Homo sapiens: one gene and its partners. The protein of the gene in region 2 purifies or fractionates together with the protein of the main gene of each other region. This does not show direct contact. Each region holds a gene or a part of one and is shown on either strand. Other genes may lie near its edges. The genes, in order: DYNC1I2, PRUNE2, UBLCP1 and ZMYM1.

The links.
Region 1: the proteins of PRUNE2 (region 2) and DYNC1I2 fractionate together in Homo sapiens (co-fractionation; one large-scale study listed by BioGRID). This does not show direct contact.
Region 3: the proteins of PRUNE2 (region 2) and UBLCP1 purify together in Homo sapiens (affinity purification with mass spectrometry; one large-scale study listed by BioGRID and IntAct). This does not show direct contact.
Region 4: the proteins of PRUNE2 (region 2) and ZMYM1 purify together in Homo sapiens (affinity purification with mass spectrometry; one large-scale study listed by BioGRID and IntAct). This does not show direct contact.

The regions. Positions count from the first base shown.
Region 1 is NC_000002.12:171,690,646-171,699,465, reverse strand, and holds part of DYNC1I2 (cytoplasmic dynein 1 intermediate chain 2), read right to left. Parts: intron 6,690-8,820; coding exon 6,572-6,689; intron 1-6,571. UniProt on the Homo sapiens protein: Acts as one of several non-catalytic accessory components of the cytoplasmic dynein 1 complex that are thought to be involved in linking dynein to cargos and to adapter proteins that regulate dynein function.
Region 2 is NC_000009.12:76,706,188-76,713,127, reverse strand, and holds part of PRUNE2 (protein prune homolog 2), read left to right. Parts: intron 1-1,769; coding exon 1,770-6,940. UniProt on the Homo sapiens protein: May play an important role in regulating differentiation, survival and aggressiveness of the tumor cells.
Region 3 is NC_000005.10:159,280,244-159,288,687, reverse strand, and holds the end of UBLCP1 (ubiquitin-like domain-containing CTD phosphatase 1), read right to left. Parts: intron 5,477-8,444; coding exon 5,349-5,476; intron 3,785-5,348; coding exon 3,757-3,784; 3' UTR 2,652-3,756; downstream 1-2,651. UniProt on the Homo sapiens protein: Dephosphorylates 26S nuclear proteasomes, thereby decreasing their proteolytic activity. Recruited to the 19S regulatory particle of the 26S proteasome through its interaction with 19S component PSMD2/RPN1.
Region 4 is NC_000001.11:35,104,432-35,113,251, reverse strand, and holds part of ZMYM1 (zinc finger MYM-type protein 1), read right to left. Parts: coding exon 8,783-8,820; intron 8,696-8,782; coding exon 8,483-8,695; intron 2,959-8,482; coding exon 2,805-2,958; intron 1,481-2,804; coding exon 1,340-1,480; intron 1,166-1,339; coding exon 1,122-1,165; intron 276-1,121; coding exon 1-275.

The DNA of each region.
Region 1 (8,820 bases), on a different chromosome or scaffold from region 2:
AGCAAAAGCAAAAACTGACCAATTTATTTTAAAACCATAACCATGATGACCAATGAACATGGATAGTATAAGAAAATCAAAGGCAAATTTCATTCATTAGTACATATACAAAAAACCCTCAATAAAATATTAGCTAATCTTTTCCTTTTCTTTTTTTTTGAGACGGAGTCTCACCCTGTTGCCCAGGCTGGAGTGCAATGGCGCGATCTCGGCTCACTGCAACCTCTGCCTCCCGAGTTCAAGCGATTCTCCTGCCTCACCCTCCAGAGTAGCTGGGATTACAGGTGCCTGCCACCATGCCCAGCTAATTTTTGTATTTTTAGTAGAGACGGGGTTTCACCATTTTGGCCAGGCTGGTCTCGAACTCCTGACCTTATGATCTGCCTGCCTCGGCCTCCCAAAGTGCTGGGATTACAGGCGTGAGCCATCATGCCCAGCCTAGCTAATCTATTTTTAAAATACATGCAGGCCAGGAGTGGTGGCTCACACCAGTAATCCTAACACTATGGGAGGCTGAGGTGGGTGGATTGCTTGAGCTCAGGAGTTCAAGACCAGCCTAGGCAACACGGCGAGACCCTGTTTCTTTTCTTTTCTTTTGAGACAGAGTCTCGCTCTGTCACTCAGGCTGGAGTGCAGTGGCGCCATCTCGGCTCACTGCAAGCTCCACCTCCCGGGTTGACTCCATTCTCCTGTCTCAGCCTCCCAAGTAGCTAGGACCACAGGCGCCCACCACCACACTCGGCTAATTTTTTGTATTTTTAGTAGAGATGGGGTTTCACCATGTTAGCCAGGATGGTCTCGATCTCCTGACCTCGTGATCCGCCCGCCTCAGCCTCCCAAAGTGCTGGGATTACAGGTGTGAGCCACCGTGCCTGGCCTGTGAGACCCTGTTTCTACTAAAAATTTAAAAATTAGCTGGGTGTGGTGGCAGCACATGCCTGTAGTCCCAGCTACCCGGGTGGTTGAAGTGGGAGAATTGCTTAAGCCTGGGAGGCGGAGGTTGCAGGGAGCCAAAATCGCACCACTGCATTCCAAAATGGGTGACAAAGTGAAACCCTGTCTCAAAAAATAAAAAAAAGAGATAAAATACATGCAAAAACTCATCTGCCATGCCTAGAGGTGACTATGAGTAATTAAAGCAAAAAAGTAAACATGTCTCCTGCTTTTCTAACATTTAGGGTAACCAAAACCCCTAGTTATTGAGAGAAAGCTCCCCTTTACAGAAGAGCTTTAGCCAATAAATGCAGAAAGAATGGCAGAATTACAAAAACAATGCTGCAACTCTTAATTAAATAACTTAGATGAGGATCATCGATGAGTATTAACACCATCAGATAAAAGGCTGATAAAGAAATTAATAGTCACATAGTGCCCAAGTATCACCCTCAGATATTACCTATTAGTCACAAGGGGCTAATTATGATGGAGAGATCAGGTTATCACAATTGTAACCCAATAATCAAGCTTAGCATTGCTCAATAGCCAGAGATGTGCTACTAATATGATACAATATGAAGGACACAACATCACTTATGAGATTTTCTTGCCAAAAAAGTTCAGCCTAAAGTGAATCAAGCTTCTTTTCTTTTCTTTTCTTTTCTTTTCTTTTCTTGAGATAGGGTCTTGCTGTGTCGCTCAGGCTAGAGTTCAGTAGTGCGATCATGGCCAGCACCTTGACCTTGCAAACTCAATTGATCCTCCCACCTCAACCTCCACAGTAGCTAGGACTACAGGTGCCTGCTATCATGCCTGGCTAATTTTGTTTTTCTTTTTTTTTTTTTGTAGAGACAGGGTCTTGCCATGTTGCCCACGCTAGTCTTGAACTCCTGGGCTCAAGTGATCCACCTACCTCAGCCTCCCAAATATCTTTCTTCGTTCTTCCTTTCTCTCTCATATCCCAAAGTAATGGGATGACAGGTGTGAACCACCACACACAGTTCGAATTAGATCAAAATTGAGCTTTTAAATCTAACTTCCAGTTTAAAGGAAATATAAGGGATAAAAGCTAAATGTGAGAATGCCATCAGACAAACCCAGGAGGGGAGACAGTCTACAAACCAATTGGCCCACCCTCTTCAACAAGTAGATATCATGAGGCAAAAAGTAGTATGTGTGTGGAGAATATTCAAGATTTTTAAAAATTAGGAAGGGTGTAGTGGCTCATGCCTGTAATCCCAGCACCTTGGGAGGCCAAGGCAGGAGGATCGCTTTGAGCCCAGGAGTTCAAAGCCAGCCCTGGCAACATAGTGAGACCCCATCTCTATAAAAAAAAACAAAAACAAAAACAAAACAAAAAAATTAGTTGGGCATGGTGGTGTGCACCTATGTTCCCAGCTACTTGGGAGGCTGAGGTGAGAGGATCGCTTGAGCCTGGGAGGTTGAGGCTATAACAAGCCATGGTTGCACCACTGCATTCCAGCCGAGGTGACAGAGCAAGACCTTGTCTCAAAAATAATAATAATAATAATAATTAAGAAAAATAAAAACATATAGCAATGCAATGTATGTATGGTACAGCAACACTTTGGAGGGAAACAAACTAAATTTCTTGAGGAAAGAAAAATGTTTGTGAACCTAGGACTATTTTGTAAAAGGAACAAAGGGGGTGATTTTCTGTATCAGAAATTAGAATATAATACAAAGGTGCAGTAATTAAAACTGGGTTGTGTAGAACCAAACAAATAGATTCATAGTGAAAATAGAGAGCCCAGAAATGCCCATAAATATATGGGAATTTACTGTATGACAAAGTTGGCATCGGACTTCAGTGGGGGAAAAGATAGACTAACAAATGGCACTGAGAAAATTAGCTACCTATATAGAGAAAAATTAGGTTGGATCCCTACCTCATACTATTTTTAAAAATATAACCCAAATATCTACATGTGAAGGGTAAAACTATAAAATTAATAGGAAAAACATAGAAGAATATATTTGCATCCACAATGTAGGAAACAATTTCTTTTTAAAAAAGACCAAAAGCACACAAAAAAGGGTTATACAGGTTGAGTATCCCTTACCCAAAATGTTTGGGACCAAAGGTGACAGATTATTTTGGATTTTTGACTATTTGCATTATACCTAGCAGTTCAGTATCCTAACTTAAAAATCTGAAATCTGAAATTCTCTAATCAGTATTTCTTTTGAGTGTCATGTTGGTGCTTAAAGTGTTTCAGATTTTGGGGCATTTTGAATGCTGAATTTTTGGATTAGGAATACTTAGCCTGTAATTGCTAGATTTGATCATATCAAAATGAAGGATTTGATCATATCAAAATAGAGGATTCTGTTCAATGAAGAATATTATAAGCAGTTAACAGATTAGAAGGGTTTTTAAAAAGACTAAAACAGACAAAAGTCCTCCCTAAAATATACAAAATACACAAAGAATGCCTATACATCAGAAGATAAAGAACCTCAATCATAGTAAATGGGGAGAAGGACATGAATATGCAGTTCACAGAAGGGAAAACTTGAATGGTTAAAAGATATATAAAGAGGTGGTCAACCTCACTGTAATCAGATAAATGTATATTAAAACATTTTGGTGTACCACTTTATACTCATCAAGTTAGCAAAAATTAGAAAGCTGGATAATATCCAGTCATCATGTGAATATGGTAAAGCAGTTACTTTTTCATGCACTGGTAGCGGGCGGGTAAACTTTGTAGCCATTCTGGAGAGTGACACGCAGAACCTAATTAAGCTAAGTCTTATATACAATAACATAGCAAGTAAATTCTTGGGGATACACCCCAGAGAAAGTATTCCACAGTCCTCAAGGGAAAAAACACATATTTTTTGCAGTGTTGCTTATGATAGTAAAGCAAAGAGACAAAAGGAAACTGAGTGCATAGCACTGGGGGAATGGATAAGTAAAATGTGGTACATAATAGGATATTATATATTAGAAATAAATGACTAAATACGTATATAGCAACATGGAATAAACAAAAGACATACAGCACTATGCCATTTATATATATAAAGTATATATACACAGAGATATGTGAAACCTTGAAAAACAGAGGATAATCTGAAGGATGTATGTTAAAAATTCAAAAGTGGGCCGGGCATGGTGGCTAACACCTGTAATCCAAGCACTTTGGGAGGCCGAAGAAGGCGGATCATGAGGTCAGGAGTTCGAGACCAGCCTGGCCAACGTGGTGAAAGCCCGTCTCTACTAAAGATACAAAAAATTAGTCAGGTGTGGTGGCACGTGCCTGTAATCCCAGCTACTTGGGAGGCTGAGGCAGGAGAATCGCTTAAACTCGGGAGGTGGAGGTTGCAGTGAGCTGAGATCACGTGATTGCACTACAGCCTGGGCGACAGGGCAAGACTCCGTCTCAAAAAAAAAACCAAAAACCAAACAAATAAACAAACAAAAACTGCAAAAGTGGTCACTTAATGCATTAGTGGGAATGAGAATGGAATTAGAGATGAGAAATGAGGGACACATACACAAACCCTAAAGAATGGTCTTTCAAGAATTAATGATGGAGATGGGCCATTGATACAGTTTGGACATCCCCTCCAAATCTCTTGTTGAGATGTAATCCCCAGTGTTGGAAGTGGGGCCTAGTGGGAGATGTTTGGGTCATGGAGGCGGATCCCTCACGGTTTTGTTTAAAACTGTGTGGCACCTCCCCCCACCTCTTGCTCTTGCTCACTGCATGAGACATGCTGACGCCCCTTTGCCTTCTGCCATGATTAGAAGCTTCCTGAGGCCTTGCCACAAGAAGCCAGCAACATACTTCCTGTAAAGCTTGCAGAGCCATGAGCCAATTAAACCTCTTTTCTTTTTTTTTGAGACGGAGTTTCACTCCTGTTGCCCACACTGGAGTGCAATAGCCAGATCTCAGCTCACCACAACCTCTGCCTCCCAGGTTCAAGCAATTCTCCTGCCTCAGCCTCCTGAGTAGCTGGGATTACAGGCATGCGCCACCACGCCCACCTAATTTTGTATTTTTAGTAGAGACGGGGTTTCTCCGTGTTGGTCAGGCTAGTCTTGAACTCCCGACCTCAGGTGATCCGCCCACCTCGGCCTCCCAAAGTGCTGGGATTACAGGCGTGAGCCACCCCACCCAGCCACCTCTTTTCAAGTTACCCAGCCTCAGTATTTCTTTATAGCAACACAAAGAACTAACCCAGCCATAAATTAAGAAATATGAACACTTTAGGGGTGGGTGGATCATGAGGTCAGGAGTTCGAGACCAGCCTGGCCAATATGGTGAAACCCTGTCTCTACTAAAAGTACAAAAATTAGCTGGCGTGGTGGCACAAGCCTGTAGTCCCAGCTACTCAGGAAGCTGAGGCAGAAGAATCGCTTGAACCCAGGAGGTGGAGGTTGCAGTGAGCCGAGATTGTGCCACTGCACTCCAGCCTGGGAGAGTGAGTGAGACTCAGCCTCAAAAAAAAAAAAAGAAGAAAGAAATATGAACAAGTGAGTTCAGTGAAACTAAAGTCTTAAGAAGAACATAAAAGAAAAAAAATCCTATAGGAGAAAAACAAAAGCCAAAGCACAGAAAAAAAAGGTAACTCAAACAAAGGCTAACAAGCAACTTGGTTTAGTTACAAGAAATTAAGTGTTCTGATTCATTTACTTTTAAAATTGCATGTTCAACATAAGCTTATTGAATAAATACATAAAATTAATATACTTCAGTCTTCAAATTCTACAAGAAAAGGAAAATGAGCTGAAAGAAATAACAATGAAGCTGACCATGAGAGTAGCCAGCCTTTTCATCTTGAAACCTTTTAGAAATATCAGCTCTAAGGACAGTTATGTTGCAGTTTCACAACAAGCATAGAGCATTTACAATCTCCAGTATTTGTCCCCTGGACTAGATAAAATTAGCCCACCAACTAGCCCTAAAATGTTAGGTCTCTAAAGGATAAAGGCCATGTTAAACTAAAATACTACATAATAGCACCCAGCACAGAACTATTTTAAGTAAGCATTTGTTCCTGATATGTAACTAGATTGTCCTGTGTACCTCTACTATTTCAGCTTTTTTGGTCTAGTACAGTTATCAAAATGAATAACCCAGAAAAATAATAAGATTAAGTCAAATCACTTCGAAAATAAGCCACAAAATTATCTCCCTTATTAGCATTAACAGCAGAAGGCTATAAGCTTATCCTTCCACTCCTGTACCTTTGAATACTAATATATTTTGCATTCTAACAATATAAGTCTGATTGTATCTCTCGCTAATCTCCAGAAAGGAATATAGAGTTCAGATCAGGAATCCTAGTTATCTTTGAGCTTAACACAGTATGGCACATAAAACTTGCTTAACCAATGTTTGTTGAAATAAATTACTGATTTAATAAGAGAAGTCAATTGGTAGTTCAGTATATGTTAATAATTACTCTTGCAGCTCTTTTGAACAAATAAAATAACCATGTACTAGCATATCTGAAAAAAAGACAATTCCAAATAAAAGATTAATAATTTTAGAGACACAAGGAAAATATGTAAAATATATCAAGTCAATCCACTCAGCTATGTCTGAGCTGAACAGAATCTATGCCTATCTCTTATAAATGGATATATTCTTAACCTTACCAATGGGGGATTCTGGAGTTAGCCCCATGCTTTGAAGCAATGCTTCAGCTTCTCTCCTTTTTTTTTCAAGATCTGATTCTTCTTGCACAGGAGCAACAGCTTCCTTCTTCTGGTCTGTCTAAAATGTTTAGGTTAAAAACTTATGTTTACATATAGTATGAAAAATTTGTTTGCAAAAATGTTTTAAATAATATGCTAACACTGTATACTTTTAAGGCATGAACTTAGTTTTGAGTACAGGTTAAGTTCTTTTTATAGTCATTAAATGAAAATCATTCTCAATAGAGTTCTAGTAAATAACCTTCAAATGATATGTACTAAACTGCTCTATCTTCATATGTAATCAAGGAGTTTCCACAAAAATTTTCCTAACAGACAAATTCAAGAAGTACAGTCAACTTCGAATTATCTACAGTATGAAATTGCTGTCTATGGTCAGGAATAATAGACAACTTCCCCCAAGTGGCACAAAAGGTTAGATACAATATCACATACAATGAAAAAATTAAAGTGTAATTATTTAAGAGGTAACAAATTTTAAGTGAATGACAATATGATTTGTTGAAAAAGAGTATCACAAACTTCTGTATAAAGTCTTCATTTTATTTGGGATTGTGTTTTGTAAAATTAAACTCACTTTTGCATAGCACAAAACATTTTGTTATGAAAATTTTTGTCAGCTTTTATCTCGGCTATTTATCGTTTTAGCACAATCTGCTGGTTAAACTAGATAAACCTCAATACTCTCAGATCATCCAAGACTTCTCAAGTAAAATGTAAGCTTTCCAAGGAAAAGTTTTTTTTATGTAAATCTCAAATCCCTATGCCACCTAGACAACTATTACTCAGACACTGTCTGGAGTGAATTTTGTTAGCCATAATATTCTATGCCATTTTGACTTAAAAGTCATCAGAAAAATTAATCAAAATAACAAAACAGGTTGTAATATCAAGCTGATGCTTCACTGTTGATAAAAATATATTAATAGACTCACAGTTTAATACCATTGTATTATCTCTTGTAACATTTTTATAAACTTTGTTTTTTCCCATTGGTCTGTGTGACTCAATAAGTTTTACAAGCTTTAAATTAGGTATAAATCATGCAATAGATATCCCTTAGAACCCATTTTTGCCAGTTATGGCCATCATTAGAAAACAAAAATGAAATTTGCTCTCAGCACGGAAATGTTTAGGGATATAAATATTATTTTGGAATAGCTCTGCCAACCTGAATCATGCTTCTACCAGTCAGCTTTTAATCTAATAGCTAATGTAAAGCTCCAATCCTCTTATAATGTCTCACAGAAAGGTTCAGAATAAACTAGCAAATTCTTCAATTACAGGCCTTTACAGCATCATAGTAATGCTGCACATAAATTGTACCTTCAACTTTTCTACTACTTATTTTTCTCTTAGTCCCCAAGAGATTTCTGGCAGTCTTGGCCATTATTTAGGCTACCACATATAAAAACTTGGTCCTAAAGACACACAAGAAAAACTACCTTACACTAGGTATTTAAAACATATCTGTAGTAAAAGTACACTGATATGTCTAAAGAGTTTCCATAGGGATAAAAGTATATTTCAATGCATGAACAAGTAAAATGTCTCCAGCTCAGGGCCAATGTACATTTGCTGTATATAATGTGATGCATATTTTTGATACAAAAAATCAAAAGAAGTACCTGGTCCACCTTTATGGTACCATCAAACCTACTACTCAGTAAAAATATTTCAATGACTAACTCATAAGAGATAAGAACAAATCCCTTAGTCAATTAAATCATCTATTACATATATTTTATTTGCCATTAATATTATCCATTCTGACAAATTAGCAATTCAGACTAGCAAAATATTCAGATAAATTCAAAGTCCAAACTAAGTTATGATATATATACACCATATTTATGAGTTATTATAATATAGACATCTTGACTGAGTGTGGTGGCTCGTGCCTGTAATCCCAACACTTCGGGAAGCCTAGGCAGGAGGACTGTTTGAGTTCAGGAGTTCGAGACCAGCCTGGGTAACATGGCAAAACCTCGTCTCTACAAAAAAATACAAAAATTAGCCTAGCATAGTGACATGTGCCTGTAGGCCCAGCTACTCCAGAGGCTGAAGTGGAAGGATCACCTGAGTCAGGGGAGGTTGAGGCTGCAGTGAGTTGTGCTCAAACCACTGCACTCCAGTCCGAGTGACACAGTGAGACCCAGTCTCAAAAAAAAAAAAAAAAACCCAAAACA
Region 2 (6,940 bases):
GGTTGATAGCTGAGTCTTTTAACCCAAGGCCTAGGAAATAAAAAAAAAAAAGAATTAGATAAATTAATCAAAATAGGCCATCGGATATACCAAGCCAGGTGTACTTAATAACTAATATGAGAACATACATGATTCATTATAATAGGAGCCACACGGGGCCCCAGATGCTTCATTACTTATTTCTCTTCACTAATGGATTCAATGCCTTATGTATCCATGGGTGGCTAGAGGCACAGTCTCTGCCCCTTTCTTTTCTACATCCTCCTTTCTGTCCCCCAAGAGCTCCACTGTAGCTCTCTTGACCCATGCCTATGGGTACTCTCGGGCTCTCTCAAGTCCGAATGTGAAAGAGCATCTCCTCCTCTGACCTGCATCACCAGCCTGTGGTTTTTTCATCACTTTCCTCTGCATTTGGTTTCAAAGCTAAATTTCATCTTTGGTCACTGGCTTCCCAGGGACGGGATTTAGGCCTTGGAAGCCTACAACATGGCGGCTTTCACATCACTTTTAGCAGTAGACCCCTTTTTCAAACCAATGTGAAAATTGGTTCATTGGAAACAGACAAAAGTAGAAGAGCAGATGAAGGAGTTAAAAGCTCTTGAGTTGACCCCAGTCCTCCTCTCTTCTCCCCACCCACCCTCCCCATCCTAGCAATAGCCAGAGGTGGATCGCTGGAATCTTAAGCAACAGAGTCCTGGCTCTGGCCTAGCGAGTTCCTCTTGGCCTGTGTGGTCACACCACTGGCCGAGTCAGCCTTTGCAGCTAGGTTGCCTGGGTACAGAACTCAGGCTCCAGCACTTGTTAGCTGTGTGTTGCTGGACAAGTTATTTAATCTTCCTGTATCTTCATTTCTTCATGGGTAAAATAGGAATAAAAAGAGTTCCTACCTTGTGGAATTACTGTGGTGATTAAAAGAGATAATGATCATAAAACCCTTAGAACCATGCCTGGCACATGAAAGCACTCAATAAATGTTAATTAGTAGTAGTAGTAGTATCTATGTGAGCTCCATGGTGGTAGTGGTGGTTGTTATTATTATTATTAATTTTATCTCTACTAATCCCGTGGGGCCATTTCAAAGGCCCAGCACAACAAAATACTCCTGACATTCCTTAAAAATCAGAAAGCCGTAACCCAGTTCTGGCCTCACACTGACCATCCGTCAGTGTCCCCTTGCCTCCCAGGTTAGCTTTGCCTGTTTTGGGCTCCATGCCTCCGTTACCTGGGGTGAAAGGGACTGAGGGGTCCTGAGTGCTGTTCGGAAAGATCAGACTGCGGGAGCATCTTTGTCTTTCCTACTCTCTCTTTTGCATTCTGAAGCTATCAGAGGTTCAAGCAGCCCTGGCTGCCCCCTCCCAAACAACAGCCTGTCTCCTGATATTGTCCCCTTATTCCAACACTTTTCCTATAGTTGTCAGCAACATGCATTATCTCTGCTTTTTTGCAACTCGAATTACATTGCTATTGGAAGATGGTATTATATTACAGTTAGGAAAGAATAGGTGGTTTAAACTCCTTTACCCAAACGTTCAGGAGCCTTCAAAATCGAGCACCTGGATTTTGAATTAAACAGAGAGACAGTTGGATAGAATTGGAGAAAGGGTTGGTGGTACAGTAATCAGAACTTTCTAAGTTTGAGATCTTCTTTTTCAGACAGATGAACACAGATTAATTTTATATTTAAAAATTAAGCGAGATAAATTGCAAAGTGCAATTGCAAAGTGCAACAGTGCTTGAGTGCTGACACAAATTCCTGTGCCTTCCGACAGATTTGCTGTGAGCTGGAAGAGTGTCAGAACCCTTGCCTAGAACTGGAGCCCTTTGACTGTGGCTGTGATGAGATCCTGGTGTACCAACAAGAGGACCCTTCAGTGACTTGTGATCAGGTGGTTCTCGTTGTCAAGGAAGTCATCAACAGGAGGTGTCCAGAGATGGTCTCCAATAGCCGGACATCCTCAACAGAAGCCGTGGCAGGCAGTGCCCCCCTCTCCCAGGGGTCTTCTGGGATTATGGAATTGTATGGTTCTGACATAGAGCCACAACCCAGCTCTGTGAATTTCATAGAGAACCCTCCAGATCTCAATGATTCTAACCAGGCTCAGGTGGATGCCAATGTAGACCTTGTTAGCCCAGACAGCGGACTGGCTACCATTAGGAGCAGCCGCTCATCCAAGGAGAGCTCTGTTTTCCTCAGTGACGACAGCCCCGTGGGAGAAGGTGCTGGGCCTCACCACACCCTTCTCCCAGGGCTTGACTCCTACAGCCCCATCCCTGAAGGGGCGGTGGCGGAGGAACATGCATGGTCTGGAGAACACGGTGAGCACTTCGACCTCTTCAATTTTGACCCAGCACCCATGGCTTCTGGGCAGTCCCAGCAATCTTCTCATTCTGCAGACTACTCCCCAGCAGATGACTTCTTCCCCAACAGTGACCTGTCAGAAGGACAGCTCCCCGCTGGGCCTGAAGGACTTGATGGCATGGGAACCAACATGTCTAATTATTCATCCAGTTCACTTTTGTCAGGGGCTGGCAAAGATAGCCTTGTGGAACATGATGAGGAGTTTGTCCAGAGACAAGACAGTCCCAGAGATAACTCTGAAAGAAATTTGAGCCTGACAGATTTTGTGGGAGATGAATCCCCTTCCCCAGAAAGGCTAAAAAATACTGGAAAGAGGATCCCACCAACACCCATGAATAGTTTAGTAGAAAGCTCGCCATCCACTGAAGAACCAGCCTCACTCTATACAGAAGATATGACCCAAAAAGCAACTGACACAGGTCACATGGGGCCACCTCAGACCCATGCACGGTGCAGCAGCTGGTGGGGTGGTTTGGAAATTGACTCCAAAAATATTGCAGATGCGTGGAGTTCCAGTGAACAGGAATCTGTTTTCCAGAGCCCTGAATCATGGAAAGAGCATAAGCCAAGCTCCATTGATAGGAGAGCCTCAGATTCTGTATTTCAACCAAAGAGCCTCGAATTTACAAAGTCAGGTCCCTGGGAGTCTGAATTTGGTCAGCCTGAACTGGGTAGCAATGATATTCAAGACAAAAATGAGGAAAGCTTGCCGTTCCAGAACCTGCCCATGGAGAAGTCACCTTTGCCAAATACATCTCCCCAAGGAACAAACCACCTGATAGAAGACTTTGCTTCTTTGTGGCATTCTGGTCGCTCTCCCACAGCCATGCCCGAGCCCTGGGGAAATCCTACAGATGATGGTGAACCAGCAGCTGTGGCGCCATTCCCAGCCTGGAGTGCATTTGGTAAAGAAGATCATGATGAAGCTTTAAAAAATACCTGGAATTTGCACCCAACAAGCAGCAAGACACCTTCTGTTAGGGACCCGAATGAGTGGGCCATGGCAAAAAGTGGGTTTGCCTTTTCTTCTTCAGAACTACTGGACAATTCACCCAGTGAGATAAACAATGAAGCAGCTCCAGAAATCTGGGGCAAGAAAAACAATGACTCCAGGGATCACATCTTTGCACCTGGAAATCCCAGTTCTGATCTGGATCACACATGGACTAATTCTAAGCCACCAAAAGAAGATCAGAATGGTTTAGTGGATCCTAAAACTAGGGGCAAGGTATATGAAAAGGTAGATTCCTGGAACCTTTTTGAGGAGAATATGAAGAAAGGAGGGTCAGATGTCCTAGTTCCTTGGGAAGATTCCTTCTTATCTTACAAATGTTCTGATTACAGTGCATCCAACCTAGGAGAAGATTCGGTGCCTTCCCCCTTAGATACCAATTATTCCACCTCAGACTCTTACACATCACCAACATTTGCTGGAGACGAAAAGGAAACTGAACACAAGCCATTTGCTAAAGAGGAAGGTTTTGAGTCAAAAGATGGTAACTCCACGGCAGAGGAGACTGACATTCCTCCTCAGTCACTGCAACAGTCATCTCGAAATCGAATCAGTTCAGGTCCTGGGAACCTAGACATGTGGGCTTCACCTCATACAGATAACAGTTCTGAAATAAATACCACTCACAACCTGGATGAAAATGAACTCAAGACAGAGCACACAGATGGTAAGAATATCTCCATGGAGGATGACGTCGGGGAAAGCAGCCAGTCCAGTTACGACGACCCCAGCATGATGCAACTGTACAATGAAACAAACCGACAACTCACACTTTTGCACAGCAGCACCAACTCCCGGCAGACGGCCCCTGACAGTCTCGACTTGTGGAACAGAGTGATTTTGGAGGATACTCAGTCCACTGCAACGATCTCAGATATGGACAATGATTTGGACTGGGATGACTGCAGTGGGGGTGCGGCAATCCCCAGTGATGGTCAAACAGAAGGATACATGGCTGAAGGTTCCGAGCCGGAAACCCGATTTACAGTGAGACAGCTGGAACCCTGGGGCTTGGAGTATCAGGAAGCAAATCAGGTAGATTGGGAGCTCCCTGCCTCTGATGAGCATACCAAGGACAGTGCTCCCAGTGAACATCACACATTGAATGAGAAAAGTGGGCAGCTAATTGCAAACAGTATTTGGGATTCTGTCATGAGAGATAAAGACATGTCATCATTCATGTTACCAGGCTCCTCACATATCACAGATTCAGAGCAAAGGGAATTGCCTCCTGAAATCCCCAGCCATTCAGCAAATGTTAAAGACACTCATTCCCCAGATGCGCCAGCAGCCTCTGGAACCAGTGAATCAGAGGCACTTATATCTCATCTTGACAAGCAGGACACAGAGAGGGAAACCCTGCAAAGTGATGCAGCATCCTTGGCGACTAGGCTTGAGAATCCAGGGTATTTTCCACACCCAGATCCATGGAAAGGTCATGGCGATGGACAAAGTGAAAGTGAGAAGGAAGCCCAGGGAGCCACTGACAGGGGGCACCTTGATGAAGAGGAGGTGATCGCCTCTGGTGTGGAGAATGCCTCAGGGATTTCTGAAAAAGGGCAGAGTGACCAGGAACTGTCTTCTCTGGTTGCATCTGAACATCAGGAAATCTGCATTAAATCAGGCAAAATCAGCTCTCTTGCTGTCACTTTCAGTCCTCAAACCGAGGAACCAGAGGAAGTTTTAGAGTATGAGGAGGGGTCTTACAATCTAGACTCCCGTGATGTGCAAACAGGGATGTCCGCAGATAACCTGCAGCCAAAAGATACCCATGAAAAACACCTCATGAGTCAAAGAAATTCAGGTGAAACTACTGAGACTTCAGATGGGATGAATTTCACAAAATATGTATCTGTACCTGAAAAGGATCTTGAGAAAACTGAAGAATGTAACTTTCTAGAGCCAGAGAACGTGGGTGGAGGGCCACCTCACAGAGTTCCCCGAAGTCTTGATTTTGGGGACGTCCCTATAGACAGTGATGTGCATGTCAGCAGCACATGTTCTGAGATAACCAAAAATCTTGACGTTAAGGGGTCTGAAAATAGCCTTCCAGGAGCCGGTTCGTCTGGAAATTTTGACAGAGATACTATTTCTAGTGAGTATACTCATTCAAGTGCATCAAGTCCTGAGTTAAATGACTCTTCAGTTGCACTGTCCTCCTGGGGCCAGCAACCCAGTTCTGGGTATCAAGAAGAAAACCAAGGCAACTGGAGTGAACAGAATCACCAAGAATCTGAACTAATTACCACTGATGGCCAAGTAGAAATAGTTACCAAAGTGAAGGATTTAGAGAAAAACAGAATAAATGAGTTTGAAAAGAGCTTTGATCGCAAAACTCCTACATTTTTAGAGATCTGGAATGACTCAGTTGATGGTGATTCCTTTTCCTCTTTATCCAGTCCTGAAACAGGCAAATATTCTGAACATTCAGGGACACATCAGGAAAGCAATCTAATTGCTAGCTACCAGGAGAAAAATGAACATGACATTTCTGCAACTGTGCAGCCAGAGGATGCCAGGGTCATTTCAACAAGCTCAGGTTCTGATGATGACAGTGTCGGTGGTGAAGAGTCAATAGAGGAAGAGATCCAGGTGGCCAACTGCCACGTTGCTGAGGATGAATCCAGAGCTTGGGATTCATTGAATGAATCTAATAAGTTCTTGGTCACAGCTGATCCTAAGTCTGAAAATATTTATGACTACCTAGACAGCTCAGAGCCAGCAGAGAATGAGAATAAGTCAAACCCATTCTGTGACAATCAACAAAGCAGCCCTGATCCCTGGACTTTCTCACCATTAACGGAGACTGAAATGCAGATTACAGCAGTGGAGAAGGAGAAGAGATCTTCTCCAGAAACAGGGACAACAGGAGATGTTGCATGGCAAATATCTCCCAAAGCTTCGTTCCCAAAGAACGAAGATAATTCTCAACTGGAAATGCTGGGCTTCTCAGCTGATAGCACTGAGTGGTGGAAGGCCTCACCCCAGGAAGGGAGACTAATTGAAAGTCCATTTGAAAGGGAGCTGTCTGACTCCAGTGGTGTGTTGGAGATAAATTCTTCAGTACACCAAAATGCCAGTCCCTGGGGAGTACCAGTTCAGGGTGATATTGAGCCCGTGGAAACACACTATACTAATCCTTTTAGTGACAACCATCAGTCACCCTTTCTGGAAGGTAATGGGAAGAACTCCCATGAGCAACTCTGGAACATTCAACCAAGGCAGCCAGACCCAGATGCTGACAAGTTCAGCCAGCTTGTAAAATTAGACCAAATTAAAGAAAAGGACTCAAGAGAGCAAACCTTTGTGTCTGCTGCTGGTGATGAGCTGACTCCTGAAACACCTACCCAAGAGCAGTGTCAGGACACCATGCTGCCAGTCTGTGATCATCCGGACACAGCCTTTACTCACGCAGAGGAAAATAGTTGTGTTACATCTAATGTTTCAACTAATGAAGGTCAAGAAACAAATCAGTGGGAACAAGAAAAATCATACCTAGGTGAGATGACAAATTCAAGCATTGCCACAGAAAATTTTCCTGCTGTCAGTTCTCCCACCCAACTGATAAT
Region 3 (8,444 bases), on a different chromosome or scaffold from region 2:
CAGTTCTCCTCACAGATTATCCAACAAGAAGTAATAGCAATCAGTGCTCCAGAGAATTAAGAACTGGGAATAAAAGTAAGAGGGATTTGTATTCAATTAAATAATTGATTTACCTCTAGATTCCTGAAAAGTCATCAGTTTGGCCTTTAGTGTAACAAATTATACACATACACTAATGTGTGTTCATCATAGCCATATTGGTTTATGGAAACATCATTAAAGCTTAGCAGTCTTTGTTTTTGATATTTTTAAGGTTTTGTTTCTACTGTTTACAAATGTTCTTAAAAGCTGTAAGTTCAGCTTTTAAAGCTTTTTGGAAGCAAACCAGCATTTTAATGAGTAACAGTTCATATCAGGAAATATCCTTATGTTTGCATTTAAGTGCTTGCTTACTTCCAAAGTGTTTTTACGAAATTATTAATGTGGGAGGTGTGCAAGATTTTAAACACTTTACATGGAAGCTCATTGACATTACTAGATAACTGACACCATTTTTAGCCCTACAGGATGCTTCGTATTGATTTCAGTTCTTATAAGGCACTAATTTCTCAGAAGTCTTTGCTAAATCTATGAAACTGATTACAAAAAGATTCTCTTAAGATTTAAACACTAAGCACTCTGAAGAGATGCCTGCAATCCCAGGATCACTGCAGCATTATTTACAATAGCCAAGATATAGAAAAAAACAAAGTACTTATCAAGGGATGAATGGATTTTTAAAATATGGTGTATATATATATGAATACTATTCAGCCTTAAAAAACTCAGGAAATTCTGTCATTTGTGACATGAATGAAGCTAAAGGACATTATGCTAAATGAAATAAGCCAGGTACAGAGAGACACAATACTATCTCACTTATACGTAGAAATCTAAAAAGTCAAACTCACAGAAGCAGAGAGTAAAAGCGGTTACCAGAGGTTGGGGAGGGCGGTGGTGGTGGATGGGGAAAGATGAGATGTTGGTCAAAGAGTACAAAGTTTCAGTTTAATAAGAGGAATACATTCTGGTGATCTATTGCACAGCATAGTGACTACAGTTAATAATAACGTATACTTCAAAACAGCTAAAAAAGAGGATTTAAAATGTTTTCACTACCAGGAAATGATAAATATTTGAGGTGAATATGCTAATTAGCCTGATTCAATCATTCCACATTGGATATATGTATCAAAACACTATATTGTACCCCATAAACAACTGTCAATTAAAAATTTAAAATATTCAGATGTCTCACCAAGACTCACGTAGCAAAACTAAATCTTTACATAAATATCTAAGCATTTAATCTTCACAGACATTTCTTGGGCTAGTTCATAAGAAGATTGAATTTTGATGTAAAATACTTCATTGGAGACCATAACAGTTCGTCCCTTGAGAGAGCTCTGTTGAGTACTTGGGATGAGAAAACTCAACCGTTTATTATTCATGTTTTATTACCATTCTGACCACCCAATTGTTATTAATACCTAAAAACCAAGCAATAACCTAAAATGCAACTAATCTGCGTTTTTTTGCATATCCTTTTTTCCCAGTCCCTATCCTGTAGTTCCTCTTCCTCTCAAGGAACTATTTTACTTTCCATGAATAAAAAATAAGTTTCAGTTGCTTACTGTAACAACCTGTTTTTCCATTCCTTACCTTTTACACTGAAGAGCTGCTATAGGTATCATTAGTCCAATAACTGATTTCGGTAACAAAGACCTGAGGGGAAATTAGAAACTTCCCTCTGAATCAAAGATTTACTGATGTTCTGTAGTTTTTAGGCTAAATATACTTCGTATAATACTGTTTTAATGCTTAACACATGTATCTGATAAAAATAATTTGTGGTTTCACCAAAATATGCATCCAAATTAAGTGATCTATTGATTCAATTGTGTGTGCCACACACATAGATATATAGAGATGGAGCTGTTCAATAAGCCATGAGATGCAGAAGACAAATGAAAACTCCCACACTCTATAATGGTATTAATCACATATAGCACGTTATCTCAACAAGCTCAATGACAATGTTCTCCGGAGTGGCTTAATTAAGCACAGCAGCTAAGAAGCTTTGGTTTGGGCACCACCTAATGGCAGAATATGTTTTTGTAAAATTCTACTTTGCTCCCTGTGATTTGCTAACTTTTGTATTTTAGTTTATACTGATTTCGAAAATGTCTGCCCGTTCTTGACCTATGTTAATAGTTTAAGTGTTCCATTTTCTTGAGAAGATTAAGCCCTTTCCGTGCGTACTTTGGAATAAGTTGTCTTTTACAGTGGGAAAAATGTACCAATGAAAAATGAATACTCTAAAATTTCTGTTCTATCCTTAAATATTTAAATTTTACTTCATAATTAAGAAATATATTTTAATTGAATCACTTTAGAGTCCTCAAACTCTTCTGCACTGTATATCCTCAAAACCTGTCACAAAGAAAATAGTATATATTTCTGAAAAAAGGTACTTATTAGAATTAAGTAATTTTATGTATCTGATTAGCTGCTAAAACTACTCCTGAATGTATAAATAGTGATATACACACCTTTAACATCACCATACACATTTAAGTTTTTGCAAGAGATCCTTGCCTGAATATAATGTTCATTTTGTCATTCAACAAAGAGGTAAAATATATGTGGTAATATAGAACAGATAACGAATGTTTTAAGAAAAGATATTTATTATTTACACCACTGAAATTAGTCCTGTAAGAACAATATACACCATGTTTCTTTAAAAGGATCAATTCCTTTCAAATACAAGAACTGTATAAAGCAATATTGTCAACACAAAACAGTGGTCACATTACGTATCTGCAGGCTTAAGCATTGCAAATAATATATTTTTTTAATCTTATGGCTAGATATTTTCACTGAAACAGTGTTAGCACTTAGACAAGATATAGCTGGAACAGAACAAAAACTTTTTGTTCATGCTTTTTAGGAATGAATCAGTGATATGTCCCTTTTAAAAATTTATTGCCTTTAACTGCTTTTATGACAATGGTTTTAGGAAGATTCTACTTAGCCACCAAAAAGAGACTCATTCTTGTTCCTTAGTTTTTATTCTTCAGTCTTCTGTTTCTCATACTAAGACACAGCTGTGTCAAGACTGACATTTTCCAGCTTTACTTGGACATGTACACACATACAGGCCTAACTGAGACCGCTCAGAATTTAGAAATGTAACTAGTGGCATACAGAAGAGAAATTGTGTCTATGACAAAGAAATAAAAAATTCTTGGTAATTTTAAGCATAGCAAACTAGGTTCTTTAATTAAAAAGTTTTTTTTTGTTTTTTTTTTTGGTTTGTTTTTAAAGGGAAAAGTACTAGTTTCAACATGGGTTTGGTTTTAGATTTAGTCAGACAATAACACAATGAGACAAAAACACAAAACATAACTTGTTTCCAAAGTCACAAAATGACATTGTTGAGTATACATTTTTCTCCACTTTGTGTGTGTGTGTGTGTGTGTGTGTGTGTGTGTGTGTGTGTGTGTGTGGTGGGAGGGTGGGGTGGTCAGTAACCAACGCTGGAGAAAATATTTTTCAAGCGTAACAGAATATTCATATAGGGGACAAGCATTTTTTAGCATATTGCTATCATCTTCAAAAAATATAAAATTAAATTTACAAAAAACTGGAAGACCAAGTATAAGCAGTATGGTATTTGCTTCAGTGTCCAGCACTATCATAATGATTTCTAGCATAAAAGCAAGAAGTTCTTGGATCTTAAGTATCTTCAATAACTGCCAGTATAACTTGTAACTACTGTCCTTGCTTCTTTGAGAGATATCTGCAAGAAATAAAATAAAGATGTCAAAGCTGTATCATGCTAAATTCATGAAGATAACCTAACTTTGCTCCCAAAGGAGTTTGTTCTAATGACAAAACATTTCAAGATGAGTATTCTTAATAGTCACTTACATCTACTGATTATGTGCACGCACAGTTCTAAGTACATGTATTAATTCATTTAGTCTTCACAACAGCTCTGAGGAGTTACTATTAGAATTATTCCTATTTTACAGGCACAAAGAGGTTAAGCAATTTGCCCAAATTCACACAGCTAGAAAGTGGAAGAGCCTAGATTCAAAACAAGGCTCCAGAGGTCATACTCATTGACTACCACTCCATACTGCCTTACTTCCAATGTGAAAGTCACTATATTAACTAGTATTGTAACTTCCAAATACAGATCAAACTCCATAAAGATCTTATTTTTGTTACATCAAGACAGTGGGCAAAAGATGCTAAAGGTCTTTGATCAAGAGTGTAAAAGATATAAGACATTACTAAGCAAACAAGTGTTTTTCATATTGTTTAATAGAAATCTACCACTAAATTAAAAACTTGATCTCTATTTCTAACATTTACAAACTACTATAATTGGTGGTGTGGGGATGGGGAAAGAGTTCCTAAAATCAGCAAACTTGGACATGTTTTGCTGGTACAATTTGCTCACTTTGTGGCACTGCACTAAGTATTTACTATCTCCATGACTCAGTTACATCATTTGCAATTTAAAGATGGGGGTAAAAATGTCTGCTTTATCTTCCTATTAGGATTATAGACTCTTAGAAGACTTGTGTCAAACTGATCTGAAAAGTCAAAAGTGGAATCTGAAAAGCCAAAGTGTTATTATTACACAAATAGTTTCTTTTGGTGCTGTATTACTGGAACCAGATCCTCAAAGATCTAATTCCCCCCCAAATACTGTAATACATAGTAATACCTTCCACTTCTCTGGGGACTTTTCTCTGTCTCAAAACCTTGATGTTTATAGGCAACGTCTATATAGATTTGTGCAAACATTTGGGTTTAGATAAAAGACTGAAAGACTATATACCAAGATGGTAACAGTGGTTATCTTTAAAAAGGAAAATTATGAGTAATTGTTTTTTTAGTAGGATAAACTTTTCTAATTTCTCTGCTACACTCAAGTTACTGGTAATTTTTAATACTATTTATGAAATTTTTACATGTGTTTTATCTTATCCTGACATTAAGTTACAGTATGAGAAGAGGGATTATATTCCATGTGATTCATAAAGGAGTAGCTTACCTAACATCACAAAATAATTTACAGGCAGCATCACCAACATATGCTAGTCTCTCAAGTTCTCTCTTCTAGAAGTATTAAAGAGTTTACAAGAGGTATGTTTATGAACAAGTTAGAGGTTAAGATGAAAGGGGAAAATACTTTTGGGGGTAGGTCACTGGATTAGAAAATGTTTTTAGAAGTCACCTATTTTAAATAAAAATTAAGACAGCTATATATATACTGGGGTCACTGATGAAAAATGATAATTTTTTCTTCATTGATGTAAAGAGAAAATAAATAAGCAATTAAAACTTACCTTTCCCAATATTTGTGATTTAGATCCAAAAAGTCATCTAATTTTGCTATCTCCTTGAGGTACTGAGTTAATTTTAAAAGTTCTTTGTCTTTATCACGATTTAGGTGCGCTTTCATAAAAGGCCTTATCTATTAGGAAACAAACATTACTCAACACATCACAATGTGATAAGGAAAACTAACAAATCTATACTATCATTTCAATTAGAGTTAATGAGGTTAAAATATCACCAAGAACATAAATACTAAAAATTACTTTTATATTAGCCTAAATAGAAAGTCATGTATAATGTTTACAAATTACAAACTCTTCTACCTATTTTACCTAACATTATCTTTTCAATCTGAACCTGACAACACCAGCTTTCTTATTGCACTTGAATCCATACACAGCTACTCTACTTTGCAAAACTACTTAGCCTTTCCCGCCTCCTATCATTCTAGTTGCTTCTAATTAATTTCATTCACATTATTTTATTCATAAAAATTTAACCCCAATACCAGCTTGATCTAACAGTACAGTGAGATAAATTTTAACGATGATTTTTATTTTATTTTTCTATTAAATTTTTATATAGCTGAGATATCATTATACATTTATATAACCTGTTTCCTCCTACATTTTATCATAAGCATTTTTCTTTATCATTAAATTCTCTGTTAAAATCATTTTTAATTATGCAAGAGTTTTCCATAAAAAGAACTGCCATATTTTCCAAATGTTTAAGGCTGATCTATTTTATGATGAAAAAGAGTTTAAAAAGCATTATTTCAAACCACACATGTCAGAATAATAGACCGAGGTAGGGGACTGCAATTAGTAAGGAATACCATATCTTGACTTGAGTGGCGGTGCTATGAATGCATATGTTTATATGCAATCTTCATCTAGATTTGTGCATAAATCTATGCTTAAAAAGACTAGAGGACTATAAATCAAGATGGTAATAGTGTTTATCTTTGGAAAGGAAAATCATGAGTAATTTTAGTGGAATAAAATTTTTTACAAGAATTATCTTTACAGTTTGTTGAACTATAAATTTATGCACTTTTCCTTATTTTATAGCTTCAGTAAAGAATTCTGCTGTTTTGTAAAAGACACCTGCTCAAATATCTTTATACAACTCAAGATAGTCTTTCAATAATTTTAAATTAATTTTAGATAATATGATATGACTAAGATTTACTTCAAAATATTAAGGAGAGGGAAGTAGCGTATAGAGCAAACAATAACCATCCATGAATTAATAAGCTAATTTAAACTGAATGATATCTACATGGGGGTTTAAGCAATTTTATATAGTTCTGTTTACATTTGAATTTTTCTGTTATCGTTAAAAAAAAATCATACATATTCCTAAAGCACACATATTCCTAAAGCACACATGTAAGGACTGATTTCATCATACTTAGCAAAGTATTAGTATATTCTTTTGATTTGGAGAAAATGCAAATTGGTCATTAGTTTTTTTTTTTTTTGGTCATTAGTTATTAATTTTACACAGTTAACACTGAAAAATGAATGATATTTAATCATTGTCACTTACTGAGAAGCAAGAACAATGAGTGAGCCCAAAGGAGTCTACTACCATACCTATTAAGTGTAGGGAAGGGTTTAAGTATTTTTTACATACTTTTCTTCTGTCATTGGAAAAACACCACCCATCTGAAATGGACAGAAGAAAATTTTCCCAGGTGTTCTACTCTCATCAGAACAGCTTGGTGCCAGTGACCTCCACACTGTTAGCTGGCTCCCATACTGCTTGAAGGGCACCAGTCAAGAGCTGTCAAAGGGAGTCTCCTCAGAAATCAGCATTTGTGGGAGATCCCACTTCCAAAAAGGTAGTGCAGCAGTGCTGTTTCCGAGCAGCAGTGAATGTGGGGGCTGAAGACGACGCTTTACAGGGCCTTGCTTAGGCCCTGGGGATGGGAGTAAACAGAGTCATGATATGAGGATGTAGTGAAATGAGTTTCTGCATAATCCTGGGTGATATGGTAATGTTTTAAAGTATTCCTTCATTCACTTCCTAAGGACTGAAAGGTAACAAATTAACTTTTAAGCAATTAATATATAATGTACCAAAGTGTCCAAATTTAAACAGCAGGAAATTACAGGGTTGGTGGGTAGTAAATAAGATTTTCAACCCAAGGCTCTGCTAAGTTATTTTTACTTTCCAAACATTTGCTCTTAAGCACTATTAAACAACAAAACTAAAATATTCTAATGATTCTGGTTCTAAAATTTTAAATAAACAAATTAAGGGTGAAAATCTATGCACCTAATTGACTTCACTTGCTCCAGTATAACCACTGTTTACTGTACATTTTTAAAAACTGATCTAAGTGATCACTAAAAGGACAGGAAACCATCATCTTGTCTCAGGTCAAGGAAGCATTTTTAGAAACTTAAGACTGTCTAGATAAGCTGAATTCTCCTATATCATAATTTCCTTGTACAGACAATAAAAATGGAGTTTTCAGCCGATAAACTGCTTTATCCATGACCAAGATTCACATTCTTTTAGTGTAATTCTAAATTCATATTCACAGTACCTTCCATGTACTTCAAACCTTATGACTGACAAGCTTATGTTTAATAGAAGTTAACTATTTTAAAAATGAGCAGTCTTATTTTTAAGATCTACATGAAATCTTTGAGATTTCTACCAAGTGCATTATGAAAGCATGATAACAAAACACAGCATTTGAGGATATTTCTCCATTTTAGAACTCTTTCTGGGCTGGGCGCAGTGGCTCATGCCTGTAATCCTGCACTTTGAGAGGCCGAGATAGGTGGATCGCTTGAGTGCAGGACCTCGAGACCAGCCTAGGCAACATGGCGAAACCTTGTCTCTACCAAAAATACAAAAATTAGCCAGGTGTGGTAACGTGCGCCTGTAGTCCCAGTTACTTGGGAGGCTGACATGTGAGGATCACTGGAGCAAGGGAAGTCGAGGCTGCAATGAGCTCTGATCATGCCACTGCACTCCAGCCTGGGTGACAGAGCAAGACCCTGTCAGAAAACCCCACCTGTTTCTATGCCGACGTGGGCAGATCTTTAATCTTAATCTTAACCTTTAATCTTTAACCTTAAAAG
Region 4 (8,820 bases), on a different chromosome or scaffold from region 2:
ACATCTTTTTTACTGTTTTCCAAACACTCAAAATCTGCACAACAAGATTTTTTAATACTTCGTGATTTACCTTTAACTTTTTGTACTTTGGATGTACATTTTGGGTGACATAGTTCATCACTTATTTTCATAGATTTCATATTGTCTTTTTGTACTTCTGTACTGGAACCAATTGCATGCTGACTGAATACTGATGAAGATGGTGAAACGCTTGGCTGTTCCGTACTACTACTAGCAACAGCATTACTGGGTTCACTAGGTGAACTCTTAGAAAGCTTTGGGAGAAAATGAGAAAAGAACATTTAACAGTTTTCAAAAATTAATTAAAATATCAAATATATCTACTCTAATAACATAGTAAAATAAATGGCTGAGTTACAGTATGAGCTCCACTAGGGGGAAACGTTAACAATTACGTATAACTTATTTATTTGCAATCTAGATTCAGCATTAAATGTTTGAAGGACCTTTTGGTATGTAATTGTCATAAAAATAATTTTTATTGCTCAGATGACTCAAATTGTGTAGTATTTTTTTAAAAGAAGAACCCAGAGGAAAAAAATACTTCTGTTTAAACAATCTACAAACATACACACACACCCCATATATGAATACATAATACATAAAATATATATTAAATATATAAATATAATATATAATAAATATACATTATAATATATTTATATTATATACAATATATTATAATATATTTATATTATATATTTATATTTTTATATATTATAGTATATATTATATATATATATAAAAAATCTGGGCCAGGTGTGGTGGCTCATGCCTGTAATCCCAGCACTTTGGGAGGCCAAGGTGGGCGGATCACCTGAGGCCAGCAGTTCGAGACCAGGTTGGCCAACATGGTGAAACCCCTTCTCTACTAAAAATACAAAAATTAACTGGGCATGGTAGCAGGCGCTGGTAATCCCAGCTACTCAGGAGGCTGAGGCAGGAGAATCGCTTGAACCCAGGAGGCAAAGGTTGCAGTGAGCTGAGATCACGCCACTGCACTCCAGCTTGGGTGGCAGAGCGAGACTCTGTCTCAACAACAACAACAACAAAAATCTGCTTATTAAAAAAAGACAGTGGTAAAAAAAGTTAAAACTTACATCCACAATGACATCTGCTGTTGCTGTTACTGAAGAAACTGTATCTGTTAAAATAGAGCATAAATTCAAGATCTTATATACTATAACCTATAAAATAGCATCATAAACTATATTTGCTTATTTCATATAAGAAACAAAAAGAAAATTTAGCATATAGACAGATTTATCAAGTATGACAAAACAATATTTATGTCAAATATCTTAACATCAACTTTTACCTTGTAAGACATCAGTGTTCATGATGGGCAAGGCAACATCGGTGTCTGCCAATGACACTATATTGCTTATAACTGGAGTCGTATCTTTCTTTGGAGAAAGAAGCTCTGTTGAAGTATCATGCACCACAGAAACAACACTTACTGACAACAATAAAAAGATTTCTTATAAACAAGGCAAAATCAATCATCAGAAAGTACTGTTTAGTAATACTGTTTAAAGAAATAATGCAAGCATCTAATAGCTTAAGGAATTGGTAGGTACTGAAGTAATTTTTATTAGGGCTTAGGAATAGCCAGGTTCTTTAGTATCGTATTTATAATTACAACATTACACTGAAAATTTACACTTCTCCAACATTTTATGTCTTTTACCTTTGTACACAATTTCCCAGTCCTTTTAAAGAATTTGTTTAAAATTATGAGCAAATTTTTCTGTGAAATTACTCATGAAGAAAAGAGATTCTGATTGAATCTCCTAATGGGCATCTATTTCAAACTCTTCCAGGATTCATAAACCTTAACATCAATGGAGCGCTAGGTTGGTGCCCAAGCCACTATTGCAGAAATTTCTGTAACAAGCCAGTTTGTATGACTTACAAATCCCAGAGGCATTAGTCACTCTATGGTCTATGTAAATAGCACCACTGGTCCTACATGAGGCTTTTTGATGGAATACTTAGTTGGCTCAGATTATTTGTGCTTTTTTATTATTGAGTCTTAAAGCATTTACAATCACTTCTATTTCATGTGAAAAATGTAATGAAAACTTGTTTTTACAAAACAGGGCTAAGTAAAACATTCTATATTCTAATAAAAGCAGTCTTGTAAATGTATTAAACTCTATATTGACCAAGTGCCTCCTATGTACCATGTTTTGCAGTAGGTGCTCAATATATATTGATGTAAACATACATATATTCATTTACTAAATAATCTAAAAAAAGACATGTATCTTTTAATTTTTATTATTATTATTTTTGAGATGGAGTCTCACTCTGTCACCCAGACTGGAGTGCAATGGTGCGATCTCGGCTCACTGCAACCTCCACCACCCAGGTTCAAATGATTCTCCTGTCTCAGCCTCCTAAGTAGCTGGGACTACAGGGACCCACCAACACGCCCAGCTAATTTTTTTTGTATTTTTAGTAGAGACGGGGTTTCAACATGTTGCCCAGGCTGGTCTCAAACTCCTGACCTCAGGCGATCTGCCCACTTTGGCCTCCCAAAGTGCTGGGAATACAGGCATGAGCCACCGTGCTTGGCCTACAAATATTAAATCTCTGGTGGTAAAGTAGCCTTCCTTTTATACAAAAATACTGAAAAACAGTTCTTTGCAACAAGTTTAGATTGTTTTGACTTTTAAAAGTCGGTTTAATTTGAAAATGAATCAAGGTTATAAATTAAAGTCAAATAATATTATTTATTAATAATTACTAAACCCCTACAATTGCTAAACAAACATTACCTGAAGAAGATTCCATCTTAGCTTTACTGTATGCAGAGAAACAATTAATAGAGCAGAAAAGCTCTGTCTTCCCCAAATCACTCGTAGTCTCAATCATTTCATCTGAGGGCTTCAATGGTTTGCAAGGAACAGATATAAGTGGTTTGGCAGGTTTCTGTTTAGAGATTAAAATAATATTCATATTCCTGGTATATGATATGTTGTTAATGAAGAAGAACCTATTACCACTGCTTTTAGTTGGAATATTAAAAAGAATAACAATTAAGACAGTTTTTACATTTTCTTAAAAAGACACTACAGATTGCAATAACTAAAAGAATATTGGCAAATCTGAAAATGATTTTTATTATTTATCAGATATATTTAACAGCAATAATAATAATACCTATGAAAGCAGTAAGGCCAGGTGCAGTGGCTCATGCATGTAATCCCAGCACTTTGGGAGGCCAAAGCAGGCAGATCACCTGAGGTCAGGAGTTCGAGACCAGCCTGGCCAACATAGTGAAATCCCGTCTCTACTAAAAATACAAAAAATTAGCTAGGTGTAGTGGCGAGCGCCTGTAATCACAGTTACTCAGGAGGCTGAGGCAGGAGAATCACTTGAACCTGGGTGGCAGAGGTTGCAGTGAGCTGAGATTGTGACACTGCACTCCAGCCTGGGCAACAAGAGTGAAACTCCTTTTCAAGGGAAAAAAAAAAAAGCAATGAAGAAAGTGGTCACAGAAGTTCATTTCAGGCAGTCAAAGCCTACTGGATAAACAAAGGCCTTATATAGTTATAGATCTGTCCTCAATGGTAGCTTGGGAATTAACTTGGGAAGATGTCTACCGATGCTGAGGAGGAGCCAGGAAGGAGTGCTTAACTTAAATACCTTACAAGATACTGTGGGAATCACTGTTTTTCTAGGCTAACTTCATGGTAAAAATTACAAGCATATTGTAAGAAAGCAGCATACAAGCAATAGAAAGTATAGAGTACTGTGAGTTCAGTAAGTAGTAACCATGCAAAAGAAAGGATATAAACTTTGAAAGGCAGGCATTACTGTAAAGATTATGCTCACCACCTATTCTTTCTAGTCAAACAGGAACCAATATTCCTGGATTTCAGAATATGTCAGAGCCTAGGCACAGTGGCTCACGCCTGTAATCTCAACTTTCAGAGGTTGAGGCGGGGGGATCACTTGAACCCAGGAGTTTGAGACCAGACTGGTAAAATAGTGATACCTCATCTCTAATAAATAAATAAATAAAAATAAAAAATTAGCCTAGTGTGGTGGCGTGCGCCTGTAGTCCCATTTACTTGTGAGGCTGAGGTGGGAAGGATCACTTGAGCCCAGGAAGACAGAGGTTGCAGTGAGCCGAGATCATGCCATTGCACTCCAGCCTGGGTGACAGAGTAAGACTCTGTCTCAAAAAAAGAAAGAAAAAATAATACATCAGGCTCAGTGTGGTGGCTCTTGCCCGTAATCCCAGCACTTTGGGAGGCTAAGGCAGGAAGATCACTTGAGCCCAGGAGTTCGAGACCAGCCTAGGCAGCAAAGTGAGACCCATCTCTACAAAAAACACAAACATTAACCAGGTGTGGTGGCGCATGCCTGTGGTCCCAGCTACATGGGAGGCTGAGGCAGGAGGATTGCTTGAACACCTGAGGTTGGGCCTCCAGTGAGCTTTGCTCACACCATGCACTCCAGCCTCCATCCTGGGTGGAAAAGCAAGACTCAGTCTAAAAAAAAAAAAAAAAAAAAAAAATCACCGATGGAACAAAACTGCTTTTGGAGATGCAAAGTACACAGACAGGCTGGGCACGGTGACTCACACCTGTAATCCCAGCACTTTGGCAGGCCGAGGCGGGCAGATCATCTGAGGTCAGGAGTTCAAGACCAGCCTGGCCAACATGGTGGAACCCCGTCTCTACAAAAATACAAAAATTAGCTGGGTGTGGTGGTGTGCGCCCAAGTAACCCCAGCTACTTGGGAGGCTGAGATGGAAGAATTGCTTGAACCTGGGAGGCGGAGGTTGCAGTGAGCTGAGATCGTGCCATTGCACGCCAGCCTGGGCAACAGAGCAAGACTGTGTCTCAAAAAAACAAAAACAAAACAAAACAAAACCCACCAAAGTACAAAGACAAAAAAATACATATACGTTTTATTTTTCTGTGAGAGAACAGGATATTGGCAAAGGCACAACAAAACAAAAAGGATAATTTCGAAAATTTCTATTTTTATCCTTTATTAGTATGAACAACTTTTATATTTTGAGAAATCTTAACAATTCACTAATCTTTAACGTTAAGCAACAATAGTGGCATAATTTATTTTTATTTATTTATTTATTTTTGAGACAGAGTCTTGCTCTGTTGTCCAGGCTGGAGTGCAGTGGTATGATCTCGGCTCACTACAACCTTTACCTTCCCCAGGTTCAAGCAATTCTCCTGCCTCAGCCTCCCGGGTAGCTGGGATTATTAGGTGTGTGCCACTATGCCCGGCTAATTTTTGTATTTTTAGTAGAGATGGAGTTTCACCATGTTGGCCAGGCTGGTCTTGAACTCCTGACCTCAAGTGATCCTCCCGTTTGGCCTCCCAAAGTGCTGGGATTACAGGCGTGAGCCACCGCACCTGGCCCAATAGTGGTATCATTTATAATTAAGTTAGTTTAATATTCATAAGGGAAGGCTAACTTAATATATTCTATTAACATATGGCCAAAATAATTACAATTACATCTAATAATCCACTTTTTAAAAATAAAAAGCTACCCCATTTTTAGATTCACATATTTGGACATTTTTCTAATTCTGGATTATAGTTCACTAACATTGTAGATTTACTCCATTATCACTGTCACATGATGTCTTACATTCAGATGCAAGGGGAAAGTGTTAGGCTGTGCTTGTTAACTAACTCGTTTACCCAAATCAGTCTTGCCCCATCACATAAGCTGAACAACTGGGTACTCAATACAGGTTTTTTTTTTTTTTTCTGAGACAGAGTCTCGCTCTGTCGCCCAGGCTGGAGTGCAGTGGCACGATCTCGGCTCACTGCAAGCTCCGCCTCCCGGGTTCATGCCATTCTCCTGCCTCAGCCTCCAGAGTAGCTGGGACTACAGGCGCCCGCCACCACACCCCGCTAATTTTTTTTTTTTTTTGTATTTTTAGTAACGATGGGGTTTCACCATGTTAGCCAGGATGGTCTCGATCTCCTGACCTCGTGATCCACCCGCCTCAGCCTCCCAAAGTGCTGGGATTACAGGCGTGACCCACCGTGCCCGGCATATAGGCTTTTAAAAACAGAACAAGGCCGGCCAGGCGCGGTGGCTCACACCTGTAATCCCAGCACTTTGGGAGGCCGAGGCGGGCGGATCACGAGGTCAGGAGATTGAGACCATCCTGGCTAACACGGTGAAACCCTGTCTCTACTAAAAATACAAAAAATTAGCCAGACGTGGTGGTGGGCACCTGTAGTCCCAGCTGCTCGCGAGGCTGAGATACGAGAATGGCGTGAACCCGCGAGGCGGAGCTTGCAGTGAGCTGAGATTGCGCCACTGCACTCCAGCCTGGGCGACAGAGCGAGACTCCGTCTCAAAAAACAAACAACAACAACAACAACAACAAAAAACAACCCAGAACAAGGCCTATTGAGTGTCAAAAAGAAAGAAAGAAAAAAAAAGGAATATTATTTCCTGCCTTTGGGAGAAGTCTTCTGTGCTTTCCGTTCTGGTCCCAAGGCAGGATACTCTCAAGATGGGGGCCATAGAAAAGATGTGAGTCACAAATGATCTATTTGAATTATGGCTTGTTTTGACTCCCATCTTCAACTGCTTTTTTTTTTTTTTTTTTTTTTTGAGACGGAGTCTCACTCTGTCGCCTAGGCTGGAGTGCAATGGTGCCATCTCGGCTCACTGCAACCTCCACCTCCCGGGTTCAAGAGATTTTCCTGCCTCAGCCTCCCAAGTAGTTGGGATTATAGGCGCCTGCCACCATGCCCAGCTAATTTTGGTATTCTTAGTAGAGGCGGGTTTTCGCCATGTTGGCCAGGCTGGTCTCCAACTCCTGACCTCAGGTGATCGGCCAGCCTCGGCCTCCCAAAGTGCTGGGATTATAGGCATCAGCCACTGCACCCGGCCAACTGCTTGTTTTTAAGGAAGTCTGTATAGGGATAGAGTTGGGTCTCAAAATATGATATGAACAAGCAACATATCTAAGAAGTCCCACCTCATCTCATTTGCTCTTTCTCTGCTCTCAGAAGCACCCACCCAGAGCTTGTCTATCAGAAATAGGGACAAATAATACTAATCTCACTGGATTATTTCCTCCTATGACTGACTCAGAGAAAGCATGTGATATTTTTTGTTTGTTTTTTTAAAGACAGGTTCTTGCTATGTTGCTCAGGCTGGTTCTGAACTCCTGGCTCAACTGAACCTCCCGCCTTGGTCTCCCAAAGTGCTGAGATAACAGGTGTAAGCCACCATGACTGTCCACATGTGACATTCTTGATTCATCTTTGCATTGTTTGGTGTAAGAGTTAAACACGTGGAATTAAAAACAAAAACATGGCTAGGCTCACATCTGTAATCCCAGCACCTTAGGAGACCAAGGCAGGAGGATCAGCTGAGTTCAGGAGTTGTAAGACAAGCTTGGGCAACATAGTAAGAGCTTGTCTCTACAAAAAAATTAAAAATTAGCCAGGTGTGGTGGTGTGTGCCTGTAGTTCCAGCTACTCGGGACGCTGAGGTGGGAGGATCACTTGAGCTAAGGAGGTCAAGGCTACAGTGAGCCATGATTGCCACTGCACTCCAAGCTGGCTGACAAAGACCTCGTCTCAAAAAAATCAAAATAAATAAAAAAAATAAATAGCTGGGCACAGTGGCTTACGCCTGTAATCCCAGTTCCTTGGGAGGCTGAGGCAGGAGAATTGCTTGAACCTGGGAGGCGGAGGTTGCAGTGAGCCAAGATTGTGCCACTGCACTCCAGCCTGGGCAAGACAGCGAGACTCCGTCTCAAAAAAAATAAATAAGGTCAGGTGTGGTGGTTCATGCCTGTAATCCCAGCACTTTGGGAGGCCAAGGCAGGTGGATCACGAGGTCAGGAGATTGAGACCATCCTGGCTAACACAGTGAAACCCCATCTCTACTTAAAATACAAAAAATTAGCCAGGCGTGGTGGTGGCGGGTGCTTGTAGTCCCAGCTACTTGGGAGGCCGAGGCAGGAGAATGGCATGAACCCGCGAGGCAGAACTTGCAGTGAGCCGAGATCGCGCCACCGCACTCCAGCCTGGGTGACAGAGGAAGACTCCATCTCACCAAAAAAAAAAAAAAAAAAAAAAAGAAAGAAATAAAATAAATACATAAAAATAAAAACAAAAATACTTTTGTGTTTGGGTTTTATTGACCAGCAGACTATTGTTATTTTTGCTATACTTATTTCTAGTTTATAAACCGGCTCCAGCCTGCCTGCCTTTTCTTTAAGGTGAGATAATCGATCTGAGATTATTTAGGAAAATCTCCATATAGCATTTATCATGAATTCTTATGCAAGAAGAAACCGTTAAAAGCCTTCTATTTCATCTTCATCAACTTATCGACATTATTCCAAAGGGTACCAAAAACTACTTCCCACATTTTCCTAGAGTGAAACCATTCATAGGCCAGTTAATAGAAGAAACAATAGGTCTTTATTCATACCTGCTTATATGCTGTAATACTCTTTGAACTATTAAAGTAATGAGACTGTCCTTCCATCTGAAGTATGTGGGACAGACTAGAGCTGGTGTAACAGTAAGTGCCACAGTTCTCACAGCAGTTCATGATGAAGTTGTTAGCAGAGTGAAACTTTGAAAGGCAGGCATTACTGCAAAGATTATGTTTCACATTTTGGTATTTTACTTCATACTGAATCTAGGATTTAATAAAAAGATTCAGTAAAAACTCTGATATTTAAGCAGAATCATCAGAATCCCTGTAAAGGTTATAATTGGAACTTACAATAGCAGTCTTCTGGCACATGCTGCACTTGGTCAAAA